Regions from separate parts of the Homo sapiens genome. Here region 2 is linked to region 1. The links come from fine-mapping of genetic effects on gene expression. Tissue or cell type: esophagus muscle. Region 1 holds a variant in brackets; the other region holds the start of a gene. All regions are shown on one strand. Distances are from middle to middle.

Region 1 (8,199 bases):
CAAGCTTCAATAGCCAAAGTGATCAAGCAGAAGAAAGGATATCAGTGATTGAAGACCAAATTAATGAAATAAAGCAAGAAGACAAGATTAGAGAAAAAAGAGTGAAAAGAAATGAAAAAACCCTCCAAGAAATATGGGACTATGTGAAAAGACCAAATCTACATTTGATTGGTGTACCTGAAAGTGACGGGGAGAATGGAACCAAGTTGGAAATCACTCTTCAGGATATTATCCAGAACTTCCCCAACATAGCAAGGCAGGCCAACATTCAAATTCAGGAAATACAGAGAACACCACAGAGATATTCCTCGAGAAGAGCAACCCCAAAACACAAAATCATCAGACTCACCAAGGTTGAAATGAAGGAAAAAATGTTAAAGGCAGCCAGAGAGAAAGGTCGGATTACCCACAAAGGGAAGCCCATCAGACTAACAGCAGATCTCTCAGCAGAAACCCTACAAGCCAGAAGGGAGTGGGGGCCAATATTCAACATTCTTAAAGAAAAGAATTTTCCACCCAGAATTTCATATCCAGCCAAACTAAGCTTCATAAGTGAAGAAGAAATAAAATTCTTTACAGACAAGCAAAGGCTGAGAGATTTTGTCATCACCAGGCCTGCCATAATTACAAGAGCTCCTGAAGGAAGCACTAAACATGGAAAGGAACAACCGGCATCAGCCACTGCAAAAACATGCCAAATTGTGAAGACCATCAACACTATGAAGAAACTGCATCAACTAACAGGCAAACTAACCAGCTAGCATCATAATGACAGGATCAAATTCACACATAACAATATTAACCTCAAATGTAAATGGGCTAAATGCCCCCAATTAAAAGACACAGACTGGCAATTGGATAAAGAGTCAAGATCCATCAGTGCACTGTATTCAGGAGACTCATCTCACATGCAAAGACACATATAGGCTCAAAATAAAGGGATGGAGGAAGATCTACCAAGCAAATGGAAAGCGAAAAAAAGCAGGGTTTGCAATCCTAGTCTCTGATAAAATAGATTTTAAACCAATAAAGATCAAAAGAGACAAAGAAGGCCATTACATAATGGTAACGGGATCAATCGACAAGAAGAGATAACTATCCTAACTATATATGCATCCAAACAGGAGCACCCAGATTCATAAAGCAAGTATTTAGAGACCTACAAAGAGACTTAGACTCCCACACAGCAATAGTGGGAGACTTTAACACCCCACTATCAATATTAGACAGATCAATGAGACAGAAAATTAACAAGGATATCCAGGACTTAAACTCAGCTCTGGACCAAGTGGACTTAATAGACATCTACAGAACTCTCCACTCCAAATCAATAGAATATACATTCTTCTCAGCACCACATCACACTTATTCCAAAATTGACCACATAGTTGGAAGTAAAACACTCTTCAGCAAATGTAAAAGAACAGAAATCACAATAAACTGTTTCTCAGACCACAGTGCAATCAAATTAGAACTCAGGATTAAGAAACTCACTCAAAACTGCACAGCTACATGGAAACTGAACAACCTGCTCCTGAATGACTACTGGGTAAATAACGAAATGAAGGCAGAAATAAAGATGTTCTTTGAAACCAATGAGAAAAAAGACACAACATACCAGAATCTCTGGGACACATTTAAAGCAGTGTGTAGAAGGAAATTTATAGCACTAAATGTCCACAAGAGAAAGCAGGAAAGATCTAAAATCGACACCCTAACATCACAATTAAAAGAACTAGAGAAGCAAGAGCAAACAAATTCAAAAGCTAGCAGAAGGCAAGAAATAACTAAAATCAGAGCAGAACTGAAAGAGATAGAGACACAAAAAACCCTTCAAAAAAAATCAATGAATGCAGGAGCTGGTTTTTTGAAAAGATCAATAAATAGATAGACTGCTAGCCAGACTAATAAAGAAGAAAAGAGACAAGAATCAAATAGACAGAATAAAAAATGATAAAGGGGATGTCACCACCAATTTCTGTGTATTGTCATTACACAGAAATACAAACTACCATCAGAGAATACTATGAACACCTCTACACAAATAAACTAGAAAATCTAGAAGAAATGGACAAATTCCTGGAAACATACACCCTCCCAAGACTAAACCAGGAAGAAGTCAAATCTCTAAATAGACCAATAACAGGCTCTGAAATTAAGGCAATAATTAATAGCCTACCAACCAAAAAAAGTCCAGGACCAGACAGATTCACAGCCGAATTCTACCAGAGTTATAAAGAGGAGCTGGTACCATTCCTTCTGAAACTATTCCAATCAATAGAAAAAGAGGGAATCCTCCCTTACTCATTTTATGAGGCCAGCATCATCCTGATACCAAAACCTAGCAGACACAACAAAAAAATAGAATTTTAGACCAATATCCCTGACGAACATCAACGTGAAAATTCTCAATAAAATACTGGCAAACCGAATCCAGTGGCACATCAAAAAGCTTATCCGCCATGATTAAGTTGGCTTCATCCCTTGGATGCAAGGCTGGTTCAACATATGCAAATCAATAAATGTAATCCATCACATAAACAGAACCAACAACAAAAACTACATTATCTTGATATTTGCAAAAAAGGCCTTTGACAAAATTTAGCAGCTCTTCATGCTAAAAATTCTCAATAAACTAGGTATTGATGAAACATATCTCAAAATAATAAGAGCTATTTATGACAAACCTACAGCCAATATCATACTGAATGAGCAAAAACTGGAAGCATTCCCTTTTAAAACTGGCACAAGACAAGGATGCCCTCTCTCACCACTCCTTTTCAACATAGTATTGGAAGTTCTGCCCAGGGCCATCAGGCAAAAGAAAGAAATAAAGGGTATTCAGTCAGGAAAACAGGAAGTCAAATTGTCTCCATTTGCAGATGACATAATTGTATATTTAGAAAACCCCATCATCTCAGCCCCAAATCTCCTTAAGCTGATAAGCAACTTCAGCAAAGTCTCAGGATACAAAATCAGTGTGCAAAAATCACAAGCATTCCTATACACCGATAACAGACAGAGAGCCAATTCGTGAGTGAACTCCCATTCACAATTGCTACAAAGAGAATAAAATACCTAGGAATCCAACTAACAAGGGGTGTGAAGGACCTCTTCAAGGAGAACTACAAACTGCTCAATGAAATAAAAGAGGACACAAACAAATGAAAGAACATTCCATGCTCATGGATAGGAAG[G/A]ATCAATATCGTGAAAATGGCCATACAGCCCAAAGTAATTTATAGAGTCAATGCTATCCCCATCAAGCTACCACTGACTTTCTTCACAGAATTGGAAAAAACTACTTTAAATTGCATATGGAACCATAAAAGAGCCTGCATAGCCAAGACAATCCTAACCCAAAAGAATAAAGCTGGAGGCATCCTGCTACCTGACTTCAAACCATACTACAAGGCTACAGTAACCAAAACAGCATGGTACTGGTACCAAAACAGGTATACAGACAAATGGAACGGAACAGAGGCCTCAGAAATAACACCACACATCTACAACCATCTGATCTTTGACAAACCTGACAAAAACAAGCAAGGGAGGAAGGATTCCCTATTTAAATGGTGCTGGGAAAACTGGCTAGCCATATGGGGAAAGTTGAACCTGGATCCGTTCCTTACACCTTATACAAAAATTAACTCAAGATGGATAAAAGATTTAAATGTAAGACTTAAAACCATAAAAACCCTAGAAGAAAACCTAGGCAATACCATTCAGACATAGGCCTGGGCAAAGACTTCACGACTAAAACACCAAAAGCAATGGCAAGAAAAGCCAAAATAGACAAATGAGATCTAATTAAACTAAAGAGCTTCTGCACAGCAAAAGAAACTATCAGCAGAGTGAACAGGCAACCTACAGAATGGGATAAAATTTTTGAAATCTATCCATCTGACAAAGGGCTAATATCCAGAATCTACAAATAATTTATACAAATTTACAAGAAAAAAACAAACAACCCCATCAAAATGGGCCAAGGATATGGACAGACATTTCTCAAAAGAAGACATTTATGCAGCCAACAAACTTATAAAAAAATACTCATCATCACTGGTCATTAGAGAAATGCAAATCAAAACCTCAATGAGATACCATCTCACACCAGTTAGAATGGTGATCATTAAAAAGTCAGGAAACAACAGATGCTGGAGAGGATGTAGAGAAATAGAAACGCTTTTACACTGTTGGTGGGAGCGTAAATTAGTTCAACCATTGTGGAAGACAGTGTGGTGACTCCTCAAGGATCTAGAATTAGAAATACCATTTGATCCAGCAATCCCATTACTGGGTATATACCCAAAGGATTATAAATCATTCTACTGTAAAGGCACATGCACACGTATGTGTATTGCAGCACTATTCACAATAGCAAAGTCTTGATACCAACCCAAATGCCCATCAATGATAGACTGGATAAAGAAAATGTGGCACATATACACCATGGAATACTATGCAGCCATAAAAAGGATGAGTTCATGTCCTTTGCAGGGACATGGATGAAACTGGAAACCCATCATTCTCAGCAAAGTAACACAAGAAGAGAAAACCAAATGCTGCATGTTCTCACTCATAAGTGGGAGTTGAGCAATGAGAACACATGGACACAGGGAGGTGAACATCACACACCAGGGCCTGTCGGAGGGTGGAGGGGCTGGGGGAGGGGATAGCATTAGGAGAAATACTTAATGTAAATGACGAGTTGATGGGTGCAGCAAACCAACATGGCACATGTATACCTCTGTAACAAACCTGCATGATGTGCACATGTACCCCGAACTTAAAGTATAATAATAATAAACAAATAAAATTTAAAAACAAACAACAATTAAAAACAGAATTGCCATACAATCCAGCAATTCCACTTTCAGATATATACCCAAAAGAATTAAAAGCCAGGACTCAAACAAATGTTTGTACACCCATGTTCATAGACACATTATTAACAATAGCCCCAAAGAGGAAGCAACCCAAATGTTCATTAATAGATGAATGGATAGGCAAAATGTGGCACATAATGGATTACGCAGCCTTATAAAGGAAGGACATTCTGATATATACTACACAATAAATGAAGCCTGAAGACATTATGCTAAGTGAAAAAGCTAGTCACAAAACTACAAACATTGTATGATTCCACTTACGTGAGGTCCTTAGGGTAGTCAAACTCATAGACACAAAAAGTAGAATGGTGGTTGCCAGGGCCTGACGGAGAGCAGAAAGGGGAGTTAGTATTTAATGGGCACAGAGTTTCAGTATGGGAAGATGAAAAAGTTCTGGAGATGGATGGTGGTGATTAATACACAACAATGCGAATGGTGAACATACTTCTGACATAGTGAGAAATATTTGGTCTCTGCGCTCCCCATCATAAGGAATTTTAAGAAAACTTCAAATCTTGTAGGTGATGTTTCTTTTTGCACACTAATGAGATGACTAGTGTCTGCAGGCTCCTGGGCAGCCTCAGGTTGGAGGATGTTTGCAGAGAAGCCAAACTTGTGATTAGAGGGTTGGAACTTTCTGCCCCAACCCAAGCCACCCTTGACCTTAGGGGAAGGAATAGGGCCTGAAGATTGACTTAACCACCAATGGTTAATGATTATTGCCTATGCAATTATGCCTCCATTAAAACCCAAAAGGACAGTGTTCAGAGAGCCTCCAAGCTGGTGAACAAGAATGCATCCACAAGCCAAAGGTCCAGTAAGAGAGAAGCTTGGGAATCTCCCGGACCTTGCCCTACGTACCTCTTCATCTGGCTGTTCATCTGTATCTTTCAATATATCCTTTGTAATAAACTGCTAATCTAGTAAGTAGATTGGTTTTCTGAGTTCTGTGAGCCATTCTAGCAAAAGATCGAACCCAAGAGGGGGTTGGAACCTCTGATTTAAAGCAGGTTGGGTCAAAGTATGGGTGCCAACCAGGACGTGGAATTGGCATCTGAAGTGGGGGCTGTCTTATGGGATGGAGTCCTTAATCTGTGGGATCTGCTATCTCCAGGTAGATAGTTTCAGAACTGAGTTAAATTGCAGGACACCTAGGTGGTATCTGTAGAGAACTGGAGGACTACTCAGTGTGGAAAACCCCATACCTTTGATGTCAAAGTTTTCTCAAGTATTGAGAATAGACTAGACAGGAAAACAGTTTGTTTTTCCTATTGAGTACTTAATGACACAGAATTGTACCCTTAATAATGGTTAAAATGGTAAATTTTATGTTATGTACACTTAACCATAATTTAAAAAAAAATGAAACCGCGATCATTTAATCTATATTGCTCTTTTCACATAATGATACCATGGATGTATACTTATGTTAATAAATGTACTCTGTCTGATCATTTTAATGGTTGCAAAGTATTTGATTGTTTGAATGCACTGTAACTGACTTCACCAATCCCCTCTTGTTGGACAGTTACGTTGTCTCTGATTTCTCTCTCCCAAAAAGATGTGTGATTCAATCATGTGACATATCAGGTCACACTGCATTCCTGATGGTTCTTCCTTTGGACTCACTGTGGTCATTCACAAATATTTTGAAAATCTGACACTAAAATTAGAGAATATCATATTTCCTCACCATTAAAAATATTTATTTACCACTTGCATCTGTAATGAATTAATAACAAATATAATGATTAATACTTAATATATTTATAAAATGTATACCTTGAAACATCACAGAAGATAAAAAGTTAGACTTGTTACTAATCAAATGTGACTTGATGGGTAAAAATCAAAATATTTAGCAAGAGACTGATAACACTGAGAAATCAGAGACCAGTAGAACAAGGGACTAGTCAGACCAGTGCCCACCAGCTGACAATTAGCCCTGACCCCAAAGAAACCATTTAAACCAGGAGTATGTGGTTAAATGGGCATTCTTAAGTAAAACTTTCTGGAAAGGTCCTATATTTTGTTGGTTGCTCAAAGAAGGAGAGGCATATATGGGAAAAAAGAAGTCAGATTCTGGATGGATAAAAGTGTGATATCCCTGTGAGACCTCTAAGTGGACCTGTTAGATGAACTGGTCAAGAGCCTAGGAGAGAGATCTAGTGTCCAGATGTATACTTGGAGATCAGATCATTCAGTTGATAACTGAAATCCTAAAGAGCAGGGCTTCTCAGATTTTCCTAGGTACCACCTGCTAAATGGCGGATTCAGATTTGGCAGATTTGGGTGGAATCTGAAATTCACATTTCTGACAAGCTCACAAGTGACGCCTTCACTGGTCTACAGACCGTAAGAGTAGCAAGGTGCCTTGCAGGTAGGTGGAAGAAGAAAGAGATTAGGAAGGGTTAGGAAAAGAGGCGGTTGCAAGGAAATTGAGAAAGTGTGGCCAGAAAGATAAAGAGCAGTCCAGGAGAGCTTGGTGTCACTGAAGTCAAATAAGAAAGAAATGATACTATCAGAGGACTGTGTATGTCTTAGCTCAGGCTGCTATAACAAAATACCATAGGCTGGTGGCTTAAGCAATAGACATTTTTCTTACAGTTCTGGAGGTTGGATGTCTGAGAACAGAGTGCCAGCATGCTTGGGTTCTGGTGAAGGCACTCTTCCTGGCCTGTAGACAATGGCCCTCTGGCTGTGTGCTTGCTTACATGGCCCTTCTCAGAGCATGTATGGGGAGAGACAGATTTTTCTCTCTTCCTGTTCTCATCAGGACACTAATTTCATCATGAAGACTCCATCCTTGTGACTTCATCTAAACCTAATCACTTCTCAAAGGCCCCACTTCCAAATACCATCACATTGGGGGTGACAATGTTTCCTCAATGTTTACAGGGCTTAAACATAAATCTGGGTTGACATGACCCATCAATCCACAATAGTGCCCACTGTACTTTGTAGAGATGAAAAGGAGCGGGCCGGGTGCGCGGGTGCAGTGGCTCATGCCTGTAATCCCAGCACTTTGGGAGGCCAAGGCAGGGGGATCACCTGAGGTCAGGAGTTCGAGACCAGCCTGGCCAACATGGTGAAACCTCGTCTCTACTAAAAATACAAAAAATTAGCCAGTCATAGTGGCATGCACCTATAATCCCAGCTACTTGGGAGGCTGAGGCAGGAGAATTGCTTGAACCCAGGAGGCAGAGGTCACAGTGAGCCGAGATTTCACCACTGCACTTTAGCCTTGGCAACAGAGCAAGACTTCATCTCAAAAAAAAGAAGCAAAACAAAACAAAACAAAACAAAACAA
Region 2 (8,172 bases), 25 kb after region 1:
TTTAATAAGAAGTAGAAGTTCAATAAATATTCATTAAATTAATAAATGAATGAGCACACTAATTAAATAATTAATTAATTTCATGCAACATCTTACCTGGCTACAGCAATTAACCCTACTCGTCAATGCGCGGTAAATGAAGGAAGGATATGTATCTGATGGGGCACAGTGGTGGGTGAATGAAGAAAAAAAAATCAGCTACTCCAGGTGCCTAGCATGCATCAGAAATTGTGACTGTTCCCCAAATGTTCAACAGACACCACCTTCAAACAGGACATTGTTAGATAATGACACTTTCTGATGTCCTTTGATGTAGAGCACATTAAAAATATTATCAGAGGGAAAATCTTTCTGTTCAAAATCCCCCAACCTCTTCAACTGTGTATTTAGTTTTCATCAATTAAATTATTATATCATTTCAATGGGTGACTTTTTATATACACTGGAAAGGTACTCATAAGAAAATAGCTTCCAAATTGGCAATTTTTAAAAGCAAAGCAACTGGTTAGGTGAGGAATGCATAAACAACCCCAAAAGCGGCACTGAATACTTTTCTTTGGCTGTATACGACTGAAAAACTGCCAAGTTCATTTCGATAAGCCTTTGTTAAAAACAATAAACATGCCTGAGCTTGCAAACTATGCTGTTTTGAAGAAAAAGCAATTGAGAGAATTAGAAAATGCTTAAAACTGGAATGTCTAATAGTCTATGAATATGGAGGAAAGTGGGGGACAAAATGTAAAGTGAGACAAAATAACAACAGAACACCATCTTCATAAATAAATAAAAAGCAACATCTTATAAACTAATTTAATTAGTCTCCAATACTAACATGGTACCACTAACACTCTTAAGAAAACAAATCATCCCGTGCTTCAAGTTTAGTCACCAAGGTGATCTCCCTGCAATAAAGGAAATGTAATTTCATTGACTCCAAATGAACATATATTAAATAACCAAATGTGGGAACTGCAATTCACTTACAGTAAAATGTCAGCTCATAAAAGTCAAAGTAACTTCACCTGAATTTGTTTTTTTGTTGTTGTTGTTGTCGTTTTTAGTTTTTTTTTTTTCCATGATTATAAGATTCTCAGAATTGCAGGATTGGAAGGAAGATAGTTTGGATCACTTATGTTTATTTTCCTGCTTAGGTAAAACTGAAATTCTCTTGTACCTGCCTAAGAAATCCTGGAAAAATTCTAGTGAATAAATTGCAACTTGAGCTCTATAGGATCAAAGTTCTTTGTTTTGTTCATTGACATATCCCAAATGCCCAGAACAGCACTAGGCATACAGTAGGCACTCAATAAATATCTGCTCAATTGAACTAAATTGAAAAATATGCAGTGCAATGCAATGTTAAATAAGTCACTTTGAAACTCCTTTCTTAGCTTTGTTTTGGTCATAGTATTAATCACAATAAACAAACAGTCCTCATATAAAACACTTCAACACTATAATTCATGTTTTTACTTCTGATCGATCATTACCATAGAGGGTGCTGAGAATCAGAAAAGACTCCAAGGAAAGATGGGGGTAGAGTTACTCCCATCTATTTGGACTAATTTTCTTCTTCTGGGCATTCACCTGAGAAGTATCTGTATATCCATAATATAAAAATAATTTAAAATATTACTTAAAATTAAAGGTTTGCACCTTTAAAAATTGTGCCACAAAAGCAATTTGATTAAATCAACCTCTCATCTATTTCAGAATCCCATCAGTTAAAAAAAAAAAACATAAAAAATAAGAACAGGAAAATGATGTGATTAGGTGATGCTAGTCATATTATTTTTGCTCAAAATGCCTAGAGGCAATATGCCTTGGAAAACTGAGTTAGGTGGGAATGAGAAGATCTGGATTCTAGTGTTGATTCCATCACCAGTTAACAGTATGAATTCAGCCAATCCTTGCCAATCTGGATCTGAGCTTCCTGGGCTGTAACGTGAAGAGTTTGAATTTAGTAGATGGTCTCCAAAGCCTTTCAGTTTCAAAGTTTCTCTAAACCCTGTAATTATAAGTGACTAAATCCAGTTCACCTAATTACTACCACTACTCTTTTACATCCTTCATTTCTTCAGCAAACATCCGGTCACCTTGGGGGCGCAGGGGGTGGAGGATGTCAAACACCATTAGCCACAGTTTGGCACGACATTTATGGAGGGGGAGCGACAAACAATGCAAGGGCAGCTAGCTGATGATTTTAACTGTTAGCGAGCTTACACCTGTGGAGCGAATGTGTTTCTGAATTTGAAAGGCCGGAAGATTTTCCCCCTGGGCTAAGCTGGTGACGCCGCGGGAGTGCCTAGCTCTGAGCAAAGAACCAGGTAGGATGAACTAATTAGAGGCTCTTCAAAAGGAGAGTGTTTAACCAGTTTCCTGGCAGGACTCACCTGACTAGACATTTTTAAAAATTATGGCCAGGCACGGTGGCTCACGCCTGTAATCCCATCACTTTGGGAGGCTAAAGCGGGCAGATCGCTTGAGCCCAGGAGCTCGAGAGCAAACCGGCCAATATGTCGAAATCCTGTATCTGCAAAAAAAAAAAAAAAAAAAAAAAAAAATCCAAAAATTAGCCGGGCGTGGTGGCGCGCACCTTTAGTCCCAGCTACTCCAGATGCTGGGGAGGGAGGATCGTTGGAGCCGGGGAGGCGGAGGTTGCAATGAGCTGAGATCGCGCCACTGCACTCCAGCCTGGGCGACAGAGCGAGACCTTGTCTCTAAATAAATAAATAGTATAAGAGGTTTAGAATGCTGATGTGTGAAAACGGAAGACTAACCAAATAGCCCCAGGACTTACTGAAATTGTGCTTCAAAATTTTGTTACGAACGCTTTTCCGAGTCCACAATACAGGTATCACTGGTTTATTTGTGGACAAGAAGCAACTGAGAAATTGAGTTCAATCCACTGAAAGCCGGTGTGTTTTTAATATAGCACACACGGGAAATAAATATTATTGTCTGAGGTGGGGGACGGGGAGAGATTTTTAAAATGTACTATAAACATAAAATCCAGAAGAAAGATGGTCTCTATTCCACCGAGAAGTCTGCATTTGAAAACCACAAGAGATGGAGATCAAAGCCGCTCGTTCTCCAGCCACCTGCCCAAAAACTCGGCCGCAGCGCAGACCCAACCCAGACAGGGCAAGTGAGCACGTGTCTCCCTCCCAACCCAAGCTGCGCGCCGACGCACCCAAGTTAGGGTCCCAGGCTCCCGGCGCGGGATGGGCGCTAGGGCAGCGGAGAATGGAGGGTCCCCGTCCTCCTCCAGCTCCAACGACAGCGCCAGCGCCCCGCCGTCCCGCCGCCCTTCCTTGAAGGATGCCCGTGTCACCTGAGCCACCGCGCCCTCTGCACAACCGTGTCAGGGAGAGGGAAGAGGGGGAGCCGAGGAAGCTTCTTGGCCAGGGCGCTGGGGATCCGGGAGCGGGGGCCGCCGGCGAGACTGAGCCCGGGACAGCCCAGAGCTCCAGCGCTCCAGCGCTCTGCAGCCCGCCCAGAGCGCGCAGACCACCCCCATGCCCCGCCCGCCCTCCTGCCACACCCGCCCCCAGCCCGGCCCCGCCGCCTCCTCACCTCGCCGGGACCACTGCAGCCCTGGCGGTAGCGCGCGGACATGCCCCCGGGGCGCACCCGCCGAGCCGCGTCCCTGCGCAGTGGCCCCTTCCCGGGCCCCAGGCTGCGCGATCCGCGCTTCGGTGGGGCGGGGAGCGGACTGGGCGGAGGCGCCGGCGAGGCTGGGGCCGGGGGCCTAGCTGGCAACGCCGGGAGAGGGAAGCGTAGCGCGGAAAATCCCAGTGCTCGGCCTTCGAAATGCACCGGCTCATTCAGCCCCGCCAGCTCCGCCGGGGACTCTGCCTGGCCGGCAAAGAGGATTTAGCGCGGGGATCCGCTCTAAGTACTGTGGCTTGGCTAGGGGCGAGGGGCGCAGCGGAGGAGGGACGTCTCGCGGTTATGTAATGCACCGGCTTTCTGTGTCCCCAGCCAAACCGCTCTAGGACTGCCGGACCCTCCCCGGGAAGAGCCATGACCCCTGACCTCGGCAAGCCGAGGGGAGCTCGGTGTTCCCAAAAAGAACTTTTCCCCTCAGGGTCAAAGAGCAAGATCTCGAGAAAAAATACAAGGCCTCCTTTAGGTGTATCTGGCAGGGATCCGGACCCTGCTAGCCAATCCTTCCCATTTCACAGCACAGGAAACTGAAGCTCCAGAATGCTAGTGAAAAGCGTTATCTCTTGGAGTCAAAAGGACCTGGGTTCAACGCATCTGAAAATCTCATAACCTTGGGCAATTTAACTCTCTGAGCCTCACTTTTGCTTGTAAAACAAAGGATGATAGCGCCCACTTCATGTTGTTGCTGCGAGTATGAAATGAGTGAGGTGTAGGCGCCCGGTACATAATACAATTCCCCAAACGTTGACTCAAAGCCTGAAAAGGGAGCTGCCAGGACGTACCCCACGTAGGACAGGTTCCAGGCGAACTTTCTGTAAAGTCCTCTCCTTGTCAGAAGCAAGGCCTCTGAACTGACAAGGTCTGGTTCCAATATCTTGGAGCCTACGTCCTCACTTCTTCAAGAGTGGCCCGTAGACCAACAGCGAGGTCATCACCTGGGTGCTTGTTAAAAATGCGGAATCTCAGGCCCAACCGCGGATCAGAATCTGCATTTTTTGCAAGATTCCCTGGTGATTTCGCTGTATGTCAAAATTTCAAAATGAATTAGGCTTTTTGGAATTATTATTATTATTATTTTTGAGAAGCAGTCTCGCTCTGTCGCCCAGGCTGGAGTGCAGTGGTGCGATTTTGGCTCACTGCAACCTCCGCCTCCCTAGTTCAAACGATTCTCCTGCCTCAGCTTCCGGAGTAGCTGGGATTACGGGCGCGTGCCACCACGCCCAGCTAATTTTTTGTATCTTTGGTAGAGACGGGATTTCACCATGTTGGCCAGGCTGATCTCGAACTCCTGACCTCATGATCTGCCCGACAAAGAGTTACTGATGAACAGTAGGGAGCATTTGCCACGCAGCAAGGCACCGTAGGTATGTTTTTTTTTTTTTTTTTTTTGGGAAGGAGTCTCGTTTTGTTTGTTTTCTAAAGAAGGGATTTCACTATGTCGCTAAGGCTAGAGTGCTGTGGTGCGATCATAGCTCATTGCAGTCTCGAACTCCTAGGCTCAAGGGATCCTCCTGCCTCAGCCTCCCCAAGCACTGGGATTACAGGCTTGAGCCACTGTGCAAGCCAGGGGTTTTTTTAAATAGTCTAGTATAGTCCTTTCTCATTTTACCCTCTGGCTATTTTTAGTCATCCCCCTCCTCTCAGTTTCCTGCCCTTTAACTATAAATCTGAATTTAAGTCCTATTTTCACTTGCAAAAAACCCTAGGTTAGATTTAAGTGATGATTAGTGAATAAATGTTCAAAACTCACAAAAGAAAGAACAAATACAGCTTGTAAAAGAATTCATTAGCATTGAAAATGAACCTGTAAATGTAGAGGCTGCCATGAGTGAGCCCTGACCTCTCAGCCGTGAAGGTCTTTAGGTTAAAGGCTTGAATACCTTTGAGTTTCAGAAAAATGCTTCTTTCAGTTAAACATTGCTTTGGGTGGCAAATAAGTCTCACTTTCCATTTAAATAATGTAGGACAACAGTTTTTAAAGTTTTGGAGACTAGGACACCGCACAAGGCTTCCTTTCGTCTAAGTCACCACTTACAGGGGGCTCTAGCAAAGACCAAAGCTAATACTGTGTTTATTCTATTCAATGCTGTGTCACTGATGTTGTTGTTTCATTAGAAGTTCAGATTTTGTGTGTCTGATTCTATCTCTGGCAGGATGATTTTCATCCTTTACGAGTTCAGTAACTGTGGGTTGATGATGGTGATGGTGAGTGCAATGCGTATAGGCAGTGCCGGATACAGACGGGTCACTTCTGTGTGCCTACCCCTTTGGGGTTCCACGCTCAAGACCTGACATAGCTGCTGACAGGCAGCATGGAAGTGGAGAAAGGGAGATGCACAAAGCAAAACAATCTCCTTTCACTGAGGCTGGAGGATTGGGGGTGGAGAATGTTGGACTGCTATCGCTGTGCAGAAGAAAAGCAAAGCAAAGGAACCCTAGAATCCAACCTAGGAGGAAAGGGAAGGAGCAACATTTCTTCCAAATAGCACTGTCCAACAGAATTTTCTACAGTGATGGAAATGTGCTATGTTTGCACAGTCCCAACACGGCTATAAAATATGGCTATTTACATTTTAGTTAATTAATTATAATCGTAATTAAAATTGAGGTTTCTTGTGTGTGTTTTGCTTTTTTCTTTTTTACTACTAGTCTGTTGCACTAATCACCTTTCAAGTGCTTCACTCCAAGATGTGGCTAATGTCTACCATACTGGATAGCACTCAAAACGTTTTCTTCATCACAGAAAGTTCTACTGGACAGTGACGCTTAGAGGCCAGGATTTTGGTAAAGAAATGAGCCCAGATACCCAGCTTTTCCAAGTCATAGTCAGAACTTCATCTGTCTAAAAGCAAGTAATAGAATGAAAATTAAACCTACATCGAGGCTTTGTGATAATCAAAATGAGTTAATCTATAGAATGTATTTAATTCAATGCCTTGCATATTATACATGTGTAAAAAATATTAATCCTTATTAGTATTAATAGTCTTTTACCTTAAAAATATTGGGGAATGACAAAGATTTTTTTCCTTGGCCAAACTTTAGTCAGGCTCCTGAACTTTCTCCTAAGACCATGTGTGTATTTCCTTGTAAATTCCAGTTTATCAAAGAACCCGGCAAAATCAGTTTGGCAATAACGTCCCTTCCCATTGACAACTGATCACCCAAGGGTTCCTCATCCTCCACTGTCCTCCAGGTGATATCTAATCACCTTGGCCTGTCTTTAGTAAGAATCCTGTTAGGTCGATTTAACTAGAGTCCCATATCCTGTTTCTTGGCTATAAATTCCGATTTTCCTCTGCTGTATTCATAGTGGAGCCCCATCTCTCTACCCTACTGCAAGTCTTCGTTGTAGTGGTCCCTGTATCTGTCTCAATGGTCCTGAATAGTCTTCTTTACCATGCTGTAACAAGTGACATTGAATATTTTTTTTCTTTAATAGGGACATGGCATTAATGGTACATCATTATTAGTTAAGTAACCTTTCGCTGATGTGGTCAGCTGATCTGGTACCTCCACATGCATTAATAGTTGTGTTCTAACTTTCTCCCTTCCTCTTCTTCCCTACTCAGAATTGAGTACTATTTGTACTTTTCTGGCCTGGAGGCACAGAATATTTTGTCAAATCCCTACCATTTGTAGCCAATAAATAACACGTGTGTTAACTAAAATCCTATTGCACCATGGTTCAGTGGAATTAATTTTCAGATAGGATTCTGAGAAGCCTGACACCTTAGGGTACATCCATTATGAAAAGAATTGTTTGTTCCTGTTATTTGGTCAAACAAGAATGTGTGGACTCAGTACAGAAAAAAAGGGAACATTGGCTACAGATAAGTAATATTTGGGGTGTCCAGGTCAAGATAGAAGCTACTGGAAGGTTGGGGGTTGAGGATGAAACCTTAAGGCTTTTGCCTAAATAGAATTTGAAATTTTGTTCTCATGACTAATTAAGATTTTAGGACTAAATACAAACAGCATAAATAAGATGCAAGTATTTTACGTAGTCAGCTGTACAGATTAGGGCAATACATGGACAAGGAAATAGTGAAATTCTTCCTTAGACACCAAGAAACAAATTTTTCTTTCTTTCTTTCTTTCTTTCTTTCTTTCTTTCTTTCTTTCTTTCTTTCTTTTTTCTTTTTTTCTTTCTTTCATTACTTCCTTCTTTCTCTTTCTTTCTTCTTTCTTTCTTTCTCTCTTTCTTTCTTTCTTTTCTCTCACCCTTCCTTCCTTCTTTCCTTCCTTCCTTCCTTTCTTTTCTCTGGCTCTCTCTTTTTTCTTCCTTTCCTTCTTTCTTTGCCTCTTTTTCTTTCTTTCTTTCTTCTTTTGTTGCTTCTGAGACAGAGCCTCACTCTGTCACCCAGGTTGGAGTGCAGTGGCATCGTCACAGTTCACTGCAGCCTTGATTACCTAGGTTCAAGAGATCCTCCCACCTCAGCCTCCCAAGTAGCTGGGACTACAGCCACCCACCACCATGCCTGGCTAGTTTTTGTATTTTTT

What was found. PIP is the estimated chance that this variant, and not a neighbour inherited with it, causes the effect.
Region 2: it holds the start of SLC16A12, and the variant in region 1 is fine-mapped to the expression of SLC16A12 in esophagus muscle (GTEx, PIP above 0.99).

The regions. Positions count from the first base shown.
Region 1 is chr10:89,506,933-89,515,131 of GRCh38, forward strand. All of the region lies in intron 2 of SLC16A12 (solute carrier family 16 member 12), which reads right to left. Among named protein-coding and RNA genes, the nearest start is that of SLC16A12, 25 kb to the right of the region's middle. The variant G/A (reference allele first, on the strand shown) is at 3,198.
Region 2 is chr10:89,532,108-89,540,279 of GRCh38, forward strand. SLC16A12 (solute carrier family 16 member 12) reads right to left here and starts at 3,487. Exons shown (of 8, transcript NM_213606.4): 1 at 3,335-3,487; 2 at 2,394-2,533. RefSeq lists an enhancer at 1,754-2,653.